Homo sapiens: one gene and its partners. The protein of the gene in region 1 interacts with the protein of each later gene in a pairwise test. Each region holds a gene or a part of one and is shown in the gene's direction. Other genes may lie near its edges. The genes, in order: HSD17B11, LNPEP and GOLT1A.

The links.
Region 2: the proteins of HSD17B11 (region 1) and LNPEP interact in binary tests that used the Homo sapiens proteins (3 or more experiments, as listed by UniProt).
Region 3: the proteins of HSD17B11 (region 1) and GOLT1A interact in binary tests that used the Homo sapiens proteins (3 or more experiments, as listed by UniProt).

The regions. Positions count from the first base shown.
Region 1 is NC_000004.12:87,381,159-87,384,813, reverse strand, and holds part of HSD17B11 (estradiol 17-beta-dehydrogenase 11 precursor), read left to right. Parts: intron 1-2,451; coding exon 2,452-2,559; intron 2,560-3,655. UniProt on the Homo sapiens protein: Can convert androstan-3-alpha,17-beta-diol (3-alpha-diol) to androsterone in vitro, suggesting that it may participate in androgen metabolism during steroidogenesis.
Region 2 is NC_000005.10:97,029,945-97,033,599, forward strand, and holds part of LNPEP (leucyl-cystinyl aminopeptidase), read left to right. Parts: 3' UTR 1-3,655. UniProt on the Homo sapiens protein: Release of an N-terminal amino acid, cleaves before cysteine, leucine as well as other amino acids. Degrades peptide hormones such as oxytocin, vasopressin and angiotensin III, and plays a role in maintaining homeostasis during pregnancy.
Region 3 is NC_000001.11:204,200,703-204,204,020, reverse strand, and holds part of GOLT1A (vesicle transport protein GOT1A), read left to right. Parts: intron 1-1,033; coding exon 1,034-1,125; intron 1,126-2,209; coding exon 2,210-2,388; intron 2,389-3,318. UniProt on the Homo sapiens protein: May be involved in fusion of ER-derived transport vesicles with the Golgi complex.

The DNA.
Region 1 (3,655 bases):
GAACTACTGATAAGGGTCTATGTTCAGTGGTGCACATATTGTCTTGATAAACATCTTAAACAACAGAAAACAGGGTTCGAGAGCAGAGAACCGGTCTGACCACAGATTTACCAGGGCAAAGTTTTTCCCCACCCTAATAAGCCTGATAGTACTGCAGGAGACCAGGGCGTATCTCAGTCCTTACCTCAACCACATAGGACGGACATTCCCAGAGCAGCCATTTATAGACCTCCCCGTAGGAATGCATTCCTTTCCCAAGGTATTAATGTTAATATTCCTTGCTAGGAAAAGAATTTAGCAATATCTCTCCTACTTGCACATCCGTTTATAGGCTGTCTGCAAGAAGAAAAATATGGCTCTTTTTTGCCCGACCCCACAGGCAGTCAGACCTTATGGTTGTCTTCCCTTGTTCCCTAAAAATCACTGTTATTCTGTTCTTTTTCAAGGTGCACTGATTTCATATTGTTCAAACACACATGTTTTACAATCAATTTGTACAGTTAACACAATTATCACAGTGGTCCTGAGGTGACGTACATCCTCAGCTTATGAAGATAACAGGATTAAGAGATTACAGGCATAAGAAATTATAAAAGTATTATTTGGGCACTGATAAATGTCCATATTAAAATGAAATCTTCACAATTTATGTTCTTTGCCGCGGCTCCAGCCGGTCCCTCCATTCGGGGTCCCTGACTTCCCACAGGAGAAAAAGAACTTGTTTCCCTTTATTATCATAACAGTTTCACTATGCAAGCTACTAATTCTCCCCACAGCTGTCCAGATTTGGCCTTTCCAACATTAGTTGCCATTTACAAATGTGTACACTGATTCACCATCCTCTCTGTGGATAAATGTATGAGTCCTCCTAGGGTCTGCCCATTAGTGCATTAGTTGACAATTATTAGGTTGATGCAAAAGTAATTGCAGTTTTTGTCATTAAACTAATGGCAAAAACAGCAATTACTTTTCCAACAACCTAATACTTGGCCTGCAGAATGCACAATACTAGATCTTCATCCAAAATATCTTTTGAGACATTCTCTTAAAAGTTAAAAAAAAAAAAAGGCAAAAATTGGCCAAAAGCAAACAAGCAAAGATAACAACAACAACAAAAAACCCCAATGGTATGATCCTAAACTTAAGTTGACTCAAAATTGGCGCCCCAAATTGGACTCATAACCCCTTTTCCTCAAATCTGCTGTCATCTCTGTCTGACATGTGGCAGCGTGATCTTGCCAGCTACCAAAACTAGAAAGCAAAGATGTCAGATGTGGCTCCTTCCCATCCTTCCTCATCTACTCACCAAGTCTTACTGATTTTACCTTCTAAACATATATTTTAAAGGATATTCTTTCCTCTACATTTTTTCTACTAATGCCACATTTCAAGTTTGTGTCATCTATTACCTGAATCACTGTAACTGCCTCTCAGTTTTTTTCTTCCTCCAGTGTTGACCCCTAAAATCCACCCTCCATACATCAGCCAAAATAATCAATACGACACATAAACCTGACACTATAATTTAATCAGTGGCTCCTCATTCATTTTTTGATAAATCTTAATATGACATGTGGGACCTTAATCTGAACTTCTTCTGGCCTTGACCTTTATGATCCATCCAACAACACTAATCCTACTAGTGGTTTCCACAAGACCAATCTCCTATCTGTCATTGCCCACACCCTGCCTGATGTGTCCTTTCACCCTGGGGAAAGCAAGTGAAAGGGCATGGCAAACCACTGCTGGAATTGTATTGTGTGCCCCTCTGTGTTCCCGTAACTCCCTGTATAGAACTCTGCTGTGATACTCATCACAATGTATTAGGTTGAAACTGCCAATATTCAATCTTTTATTATCAAAACAATAACAGTATTACGTGGTCCTACTTAACTATGATACTTATGTTTCTTTCTACTACACAGAGAACTTCTTGGGGTCGGGACTCTACCTCATTCATATTTGTGTCAAGGTTTTTCTAAGCTCAGTGAATATGACCTTCACATTAAAATGCTGAAAGAACAAATGGTTTAATGAACTGTGGTTAACTCATTATTTCTTTTGCAGACAGTAAACTGACATCCATGAATAGTTTTTAATGACATGGAAAAAAGTTTAATGTTACATTTTTTAAAGCCTGATATGGAATACACAGAGATACCAACATTCACAAAGTATTCAAAGTTCATAAATATAAAAACTAGTATTTTAAGATTTTTATCTTCTTTTAAGAAGCTTGCTTTAAATTCAGCTCCAAATAAAAGAAGCTAGTCAAAATACTAAAAGCAAAATGTGCCTATATACCTGCCAAAAATGTGTTGTTAACAATCTTGCCCAATTCAAATGGAAAGAATCTCACTACTTTTTAAAAATTATTTTTAATTATTTTCAGCTGTCGATATAATATGTTCATATCAATTATTACCTTGCCCTCTTTTTTGCTTTTTCTAGCATGGACTGGAGGAAACAGCTGCCAAATGCAAGGGACTGGGTGCCAAGGTTCATACCTTTGTGGTAGACTGCAGCAACCGAGAAGATATTTACAGCTCTGCAAAGAAGGTGAAATGTTGTGTTTAGTTAGAATCATATCATGTTAGAGCTAGGAGGTGTTTTGGAGATGACCCAGTCTGTACATGATATAGATGAAGTACCTGAGAAATGTTGTTATTTGACCAAGGTTATAGAACTAGCTCATAGCAAACCCAAAACTAGAACCGAGAACTGAACCTCTCAAATATTAGTATGTTCTGGAATTTTCCAGGGAGTTGTTAAAAATGTATATATATACTCTTGGGCTCCACTTCCAGAGATTTTCTTTCAGTAGGTTGAAGGCAGGGCCTCAAATACATCCACCCTGCCTCCCATGCGCCTTCATCTCACCCATGATGCTCATATAGGTAACTATGCCTGGATGACACTTGCAGAATTGCTGACAGGGTCTTCTGAAGCCCATTCATAGAATTGGGTTAGAAAGTTACAATAAAGCTATTCTTTATCAGGTTTTTATTGTAGATAGATCTATTTCTTTTCTTTTCTCTTTTTTTTTTTTTTTTGAGATGGGGGGTCTCACTCTGTTACCCAGGTTGGAGTGCAGTGGCATGATCTCGATTCATTGCAACCTCCACCTCCCAGAATCAAGCAATCCTCCCACCTCAGCCTCCCAAGTAGCTGGGACCACAGGTGTGTGCCACCACGCCAGCTAATTTTTTGTATTTTTGGTAGAAAACGGGGTCTCACCATGTTGCCCAGGCTGATCTCGAACTCCTGAGCTCAGGGGATCCACCCACCTCAGCCTCCCAAAGTCCTGGGATTATAGGCATGAGCCACGCTCCCAGCAGATCTATTTCTATAAAGCATTATTTGCCTCTTCTAGATACAATTGAGATGTGCTGTATATAATGGGGTTTCACTCTGAACGCATTCTCGCTTGTACCTGTTAACTAAATACCTTAATGGCAGCAAGGTCATCAGAATTACCTGGGCAGATTCCTTAAAATACACATTCCTGGACCTTACCCCTGGATATTCTAATTCAGTGCAGTATAAAAAGTGTGATTCAGCAAGACTTGAGAACCTCTTTGTTTATGGAATTTTTGGTTTGAGTTCTTTTTTTTTTTTTTTTTTTTTGAAATGGAGTCTCACTCTGTCGCCCAGG
Region 2 (3,655 bases), on another chromosome or scaffold:
GAGAACTTTATATTTTGTTTGAAAACAGTTTCTATGTACATAAAAAGGGTATTTACCCATTTGTGAGCACTTAAAACACTCCACAGAGTCAGACAGTGGGAAAGGTCACCCTTTTTTTATTCGGCAGGTATCAAGTTAGAATGTATGGAATTGTGAATAAAATTATATTTTATTTTATGAAAATATTTTTATATAATAAAATTTAAAAGGCTGGTAAGCTAAAAAAATAGTCTTCTTTAATCCTAGTGTGTTTTCCCCAATTTAGTCTTTTCTAAAATTTATCTGTTTTAGAGTAGAAAATATTATATCCTGAGAATCACAGAATCATCTAAATATGTCTTATTCAACTGAAGTGATTGTAAGTCTTTATTCTTGTGCTTTGGTTAAATGAATGATAATTTAGTTGATAGTGAAAGTTAATGTGTTTTTATATTTTTAGAGTGAGGGAAAAATACTAAACTTTTGAGAGTTTTGTTGTCGTTGCTGGTTTTTTACCATGTGGTACTAAATTCCACTTTGATACAAAATTTAAATTTTGTAACTTCTCAAAATCACTTAAGATTCTTCAGTTTTACCTGTGCTTCTTGACATCGCTCCTATAATGTATGTTAGTTAACTCTGCATATGGCAAATCTTGTCTTGAATTATATCATTTCTCTCCCTCTCTCTCTCTCTCTGTGTGTGTGTGTGTGTGTGTGTGTGTGTGTGTGTGTGTGTGTGTGTGTAGTGTGGGGGGTATTGTTATGAGTAAAACTTTATCAAAACTTGGCCTGAAAAAGAGATAACTCATGATCCATTGCTATCTTTATTACTCAAAGGCTGTTCATTCCCATAATACCAGATCCATAATAGTTGTAGTTTTTTTGATGTTGTTGCCCTTACCTTAATTATTTGTAGTTTTAGTAGGCCTTGCCTCAGTTTTTCCCACAGAATTCCATAATTTTAATGTTGAACTAACCCATCTATATAGGACTTCTAAAAACTACGTCAGGAATGTAAGGTTAAATGAGAGGTAGAACTTGTAGTGTAATAGGTATAATGGTAGCTTTCAAAGTTTTATCTTCTCAAAACATTGTCTTAGCCAGTGTATTTCTGAGAACTCAGACTGAAGCACAGAAGTCACAGTATGCTTCTTTTATTTAAGCACACAGATTCATGACACAAGTACTTGTTGAACAAGTGTTCTCATTGCAGAGAGATCTACTTGAATATAAAAGGGTCATCATACTAGATTATTAAAAAAGAATTGGAAATCTTGAGTTGTGGAAGAAATGTTTATGCTTTGGAGATCTAAAAAAGTTATGAATGTAGGAATTAGATAAGTCCAGTTTGTTCTGTTAATATAAAATGGTTAGATATATTAAACTGCAAGTAGTATCAGCTTCACCATAAGCTTGGGCCTTCCTCCATCTTGTTTTATTTAAGTCTCTTTAAATGAAATTTTGTTGTCATTGTTTCAGCATTCATGAACTTTCTTACTATCACAGGTTCTACTTTAATTTTCCTTGCCATATGTGTTTCCATTTTGTGGGACATTAGCCACCACAGGAACACAAGAGTTGTCAGAAGACTCCTGGGTGTACAGAGCAAATCAAGCTGCATCAGTATTATAGGATACCAAACAGAATCCTTTCTATTAGGAAATAAGAAATCAGTTAAGTGTTGGCTGGGCGCGGTGGCTTATGCCTGTAATCCCAGCATTTTGGGATGCCAAGGTGGGCAGACCATTTGAGGCCAGGAGTTCTAAACCAGTTTGGCCGACATGGCAAAACCCCATCTCTACTAAAAATATAAAAATTAGCTGGGCATGGTGGTGCACACCTGTAATCCCAGCTACCTGGGAGGCACGAGAATCACTTGAACCCAGGAGGCGGAGGTTGCAGTGAGCCAAGGTTGTGCCACTGCACTCCAGCCTGGGTGACAAAGCGAGACTGTCTCAAAAAACAAAAAACAAAAAAAAAAGAGTTAAGTGTTGATTTTGTTGGATTACTGACAGTTTGTTGAGATGGATTTTAAAAAGAGTCTATTTAAACCAAAGTACCTGGAACCATAATCTGCCATCAGATTGCTAAACATTCACATAATCCCCATGTTTCATGGGGCTTCAGGGAAGGCAAATACATCTGAGATGAGCCACCTCCAAGGACAGCATTTCCTGGGCTGCAAAACTAGATGTGGATTTTGTTACTTAGGCCTCTCTAAAAACTGAGGCCATGGATATGACATAGCTTTTCTTCTCACCTATGCCTTTGTTACTTTTGTATTTATTGGAATTAAATCTCTTTTTAAAGAGCTTCCTTCCCCCTTCATCCCATTTGTATTTTTAAAAACTAAGTTATATATATATTTGCTTGTTTTTGCATTCTTTTATTTTGTGCTCCATTCCCTGCTTTGCCAGTTAAGTACTACCTGAAAAGTAGCGGTTCAAAAGTATGGTAAATCTCCTCCCTTAACCTTATTGCCTGTGTGGGTGACAGCTAATGGAAAAGTTGATCGATTTTTTTCAGTGGTTTTTTTGGGAGTATATACTTTAAAAATGTACATACATGTTTTTGATAGTTTTTATATTATTTCATTTTGTATATTTTTTTCCTGATGAAGAGTGATATATCATCCTATGAAAATTTCATCTACCCTTCCCATTTTACCTGTATGGGCAGTAGCTACAGACTAGTTATTTGGTTTCCTTCTTTGGAAGAAGGTGGTGATGTTGAGAGGAGAGCAAGCTATATTCTTTTAAAAGTGTGTACAGATGTTTTTGCTATTTTGTGTTATTTCATTTTGTATTTCATTCATCCATTTTGTGGACGTGTAGATAAAACGCGGTGGTCCAAAAGCATGACAGATGTCCCCTTTGCGTTTCTCCTTATTGTTCGCATGGACAATAACTGACAGAGTAGTCCTAGTTGCTGTTGTTTTGATCTAGTCTTGGGGCTGGGGTTGTATATTATTCTTTCAAGTGTGTATAAATATTGTGCCACCTTTTTATACTTCATTTTATACTTGTTTCCTTGTATGGATGCATATATACTTAATGAAAATTGAGGTTCAGAGTATGACAAATCTCTTTTCCCTTTTCCTTACTGCCTATTTAGGCAATAGCTAATAGAGTAGTTTGTTTTGTTTTGGGGTGTGGGGGAGAGTGGAGTATGTACTTAATGTATATAAATAAACTTGCTACTACATTGTATTACTAATTTGGTTCACACTGTGTCCTTCTCATGGATGTGAAAGTACCAATGAAATGTGGAGATCTCGATGTATAACAGTCTCCCATTCTCCTCATCCCTTATTGACTGCTGGGCAGTAGCTAACAGAGTAGTTGTCAAGTGGCGTATTTGAGGTGAGGGGGAGGGACGGGGAAGGTAGGAAAATGCACTTAATGTATATACATGTTTTTACTACTACATTGTATTAATTCATCGGGTGCCCAGACTGAAAGGTACCTAATGAACCATGGAGTTCCGGATGTATAACAGTCTCCTCTTTTCCCTTTCCCTTATTGCCCATGTGGGCAATACTTAAGAGTAGTTTGGGTTTATTGAAGATTTTTTGCTAGGAGAGAGAAAATTTTTTGCTAGGAGAGGTTTCAAGGTAAGAGTATATACTTTAAACATGTATATAAATGTTTTTGCTACTTTTCTGTCACTACCTT
Region 3 (3,318 bases), on another chromosome or scaffold:
TGTACAAATCGTCTTGAGGGGAGCGATCTGAAATATGTTTATCAAAATGTCAAAAATGTAGCCCTTGACCAAACGAGGGGGCCTTCATGTCCTGCACTTCTAGGCTACGCTTGCTGGCTCTGAGTGAACTCCTGCAGCTTCAAAGAATGCCCTGAGACACTTACAAACCTTGGGAATGGGGGCTTACTGTCAAACCTTGGGAATGGGGGCTCACTGTCAAACCTTGGGAATGGGGGCTCATTGTCAGTGTGGGTCCAACCTCGGCAGAACTGCCCAAAGCCACTGGGCTGAAATGAGAGTTGGCCGAAGAGTGTGTGGGGGGCCCGCAAGGTGCCTGCTGCAGGAGGGAGGGAGGACAATGGGAGCAGGTGCAGGCTTGGGTCTTGGATATAGGTCCCAGCTGAGAAGAGGAATGCATTCCTAACTGATGACTTCTGTTTTCCCAATCCAGTGGGAAATGTCACCACCTGAGAGTGGAGACAGGGCAATTCTGAGGAGGAAGGAGGCAGTGTGGAGAGTTGCTCAGGCGGGCCAGCCTCTTGAGTAAGGACCAGGAGAGCTGGGTGGTTCTGAGGCTCTTTGGAGCTGGTGGTCCTGAGTTTTCAGTGGCTCCCTTCTGCGCAGTGTGGGCTGGGCTCCAGTGGTTCTCAGTTGCACAAGGCAGGAGCAGAGGCAGCAGATGCTATGTTCAGCCTTGATACTGATGTGGATAATGTGGCTTTTGAGGACAAGAGGAGGCTGAGAGTATAAAGTGGTCAGGGCAGCACCAGCTTCCACACAGGGCTGCAGTGAGGACAGCATGCCACTGTGTACAGAAGTGACAGCACAGTTCCCAGGTGCCAGACAAAGCTTCATGCCATCCTACCTTCCCCTTCCCATCCCACCATCCCCTGAGAGCATGAAAGCTGAGATTCCTGGATGGAAGTGGAGTCACCCCCATAGAGGGCACCTGTCCTGTGGCAATGGGGGAAGTTTCAGGGTCCCCACCTGCTCCCCAAAGCCCTTTCCTCCACCACCTCCTTGCCCATTGCAGAGATTGGTGTGGGGATCACCGGTTTCGGCATCTTCTTCATCCTCTTTGGAACACTCCTGTACTTTGATTCCGTGCTCCTGGCCTTTGGAAACGTGAGTCTCCCAGCCCTGTGTCCCCACTCCCCTGCCCCAACCTTTCTGAAGTCTCTATTGCCAGGATAGTCCTGGCAATAAAGACTTACAGTTTATTTAAGTCTTTAAATAAATCCCTTAAGTAAATCCCAAGTTTATTCAGACCATGCCTATCCAGGGGTCAGACATCATCAAGCCTGGGCAGAGGAGGGCACAGGAAATGGACGCAGAGCCCGCTGGCACCAAGAATCTGAGGACCTGGATTCTCACACCGAGCTCTGGGCGAGACCCTGGGGGTTCTAAGAGGACTCAGACACTGTCCCTGCCATCTGAATCCCACTCTAGGGCTAGAGATATAACATGACATACATGGCTGGGAGGAAGGCAGGGGCCATGGTAAACACATTTAGTATGAAACAAGGGGCTTAGTGGAAAGAGGGCACACTGAATTGGAGAATGGTGGAGAGGAATTTGGAAAGGAAATGGGTGTGGAGGTGAATAAAGCACTTCCAGGGGGATTGGAACAGCAGGAGAAAAGGTGTGGGGAAGGAGCAGGGAAGCATGGGATATGCTGGAAGAAAACCAGAGAGTTCAATTTGATGAGAGCCTGGGCACTCTTAAGGGATTCATTAGGAGCCAAGCTGAAGACGGTGATAGGGCATCCAGGGGAGGGACTGGAGGGTTATTCTGTAGGCAGTGGAGCCTCTGAAGGTTCTGTGTGACTTTCAGTATGGCTGCCTAACCTACTTAGGCCTCAATCTTCACTTCTTTGGAATAAAAATCCCTCCCGATTCCATCTTCCCCAGATGGTATGGTGAGAAACCAAGTCCCATATGAAAAATGCTTGGGCTCCAGGGAATTGGGTAGGCAACTAGAAACCGTCAAAGGTTTCTCATCCATCCCCCTGCCTCTGCGCAGTCCTGTTCCCAGCCAGCAAGACTTATCAAGGCTCTGGGATTCTGCCACACTGCTGGATGGCCCTCGCTCAGATGGTCTTGAACAGTTAGCACATCCTGTCCCAGCCCACCGCCTGGCTCCAGGCCTAAGTCCCTCACTCCTCAGGGGGCTGGTGGGTTTGCTTCATGCTCCCCTCCCTCCCCTACAGCTGCTGTTCCTGACGGGCCTGTCCCTCATCATTGGCCTGAGGAAGACCTTTTGGTTCTTCTTCCAACGGCACAAACTCAAGGGAACCAGCTTCCTCCTGGGGGGTGTGGTTATCGTGCTCCTACGCTGGCCCCTCCTCGGCATGTTCCTGGAAACCTACGGATTCTTCAGCCTCTTTAAGTGAGTGCAAATCCCTATAACCCTGGACAGACCCACCAAAGTGTCTGAGTGGCTGAGATCACCCCAGCAGGGAGTGCAGAAGCTGGGACTTTATCCTGCAAGAGATGAGAACCATGGACACCTTGGAAAGGCCCCCTAAAGTAGGCTGAAGGGTACTTTGGAGGGATTAGCCCATCCATCAACAAATACTGATAGAGTGCCGACTGTGTTCCCAGCACTGTGCCCCCAGCACTGTGCCTGTGAGCAGGGAAGAGACACGAGGCCTGCCCTCAAATCTCAGTGATCCAGCCGGAGAGGAAGGGCAGTGAGCTAACATGTTCCAGGCACACTCATGATCATCATCTTATTTTATCACAACAACCCACTATAGGATTATCCTCTACTTCATAGATAAGGAAACCAACACTCAGAGAAGTTGCCCCCGGCCCAAAGTCTCAAACTAGTATGTGAAAAAGGTCGCCCTTAACCCAGGGAGCTCTGGCTCCTGACCCCTGTGTCATCCCCTGGCCAGGCCTGTGTCAGCCCTGGGCCTGGGAAAAGGCAGGGTGGAACTCAGCCATGATGTGTGGCCACTGTCAGGCCTGTAGGCACTTAGAGGGGAGCCCAGGGTAGTGTCATAGAGGAAGCAGGACTTGAGAGAAGCCTTGAGGGATGGGTAGGGTCTAAGAGAAGACTGGAGGGCACTGAAGGAAAAGGAAGGAAGGAGTCTCAGAGAAAGTGGGGGTGGGAAGGAAGACTTCATATGTCTACACGGTGGTGTGGAGAGAATAGGGGTGGGATTGGGACAATGGACCCTGGAAGAATGATGGCTTCTGCAATCATGGAAAGGTGTGGGGCTCAGGAATCCCCAGGTTCTCACAGGAGCCCCCGTTTGCTGAAGGCAGCCCTGAAACCCCCTGATTAGCCTGAATGGCCTAGGCCTCAGAGACT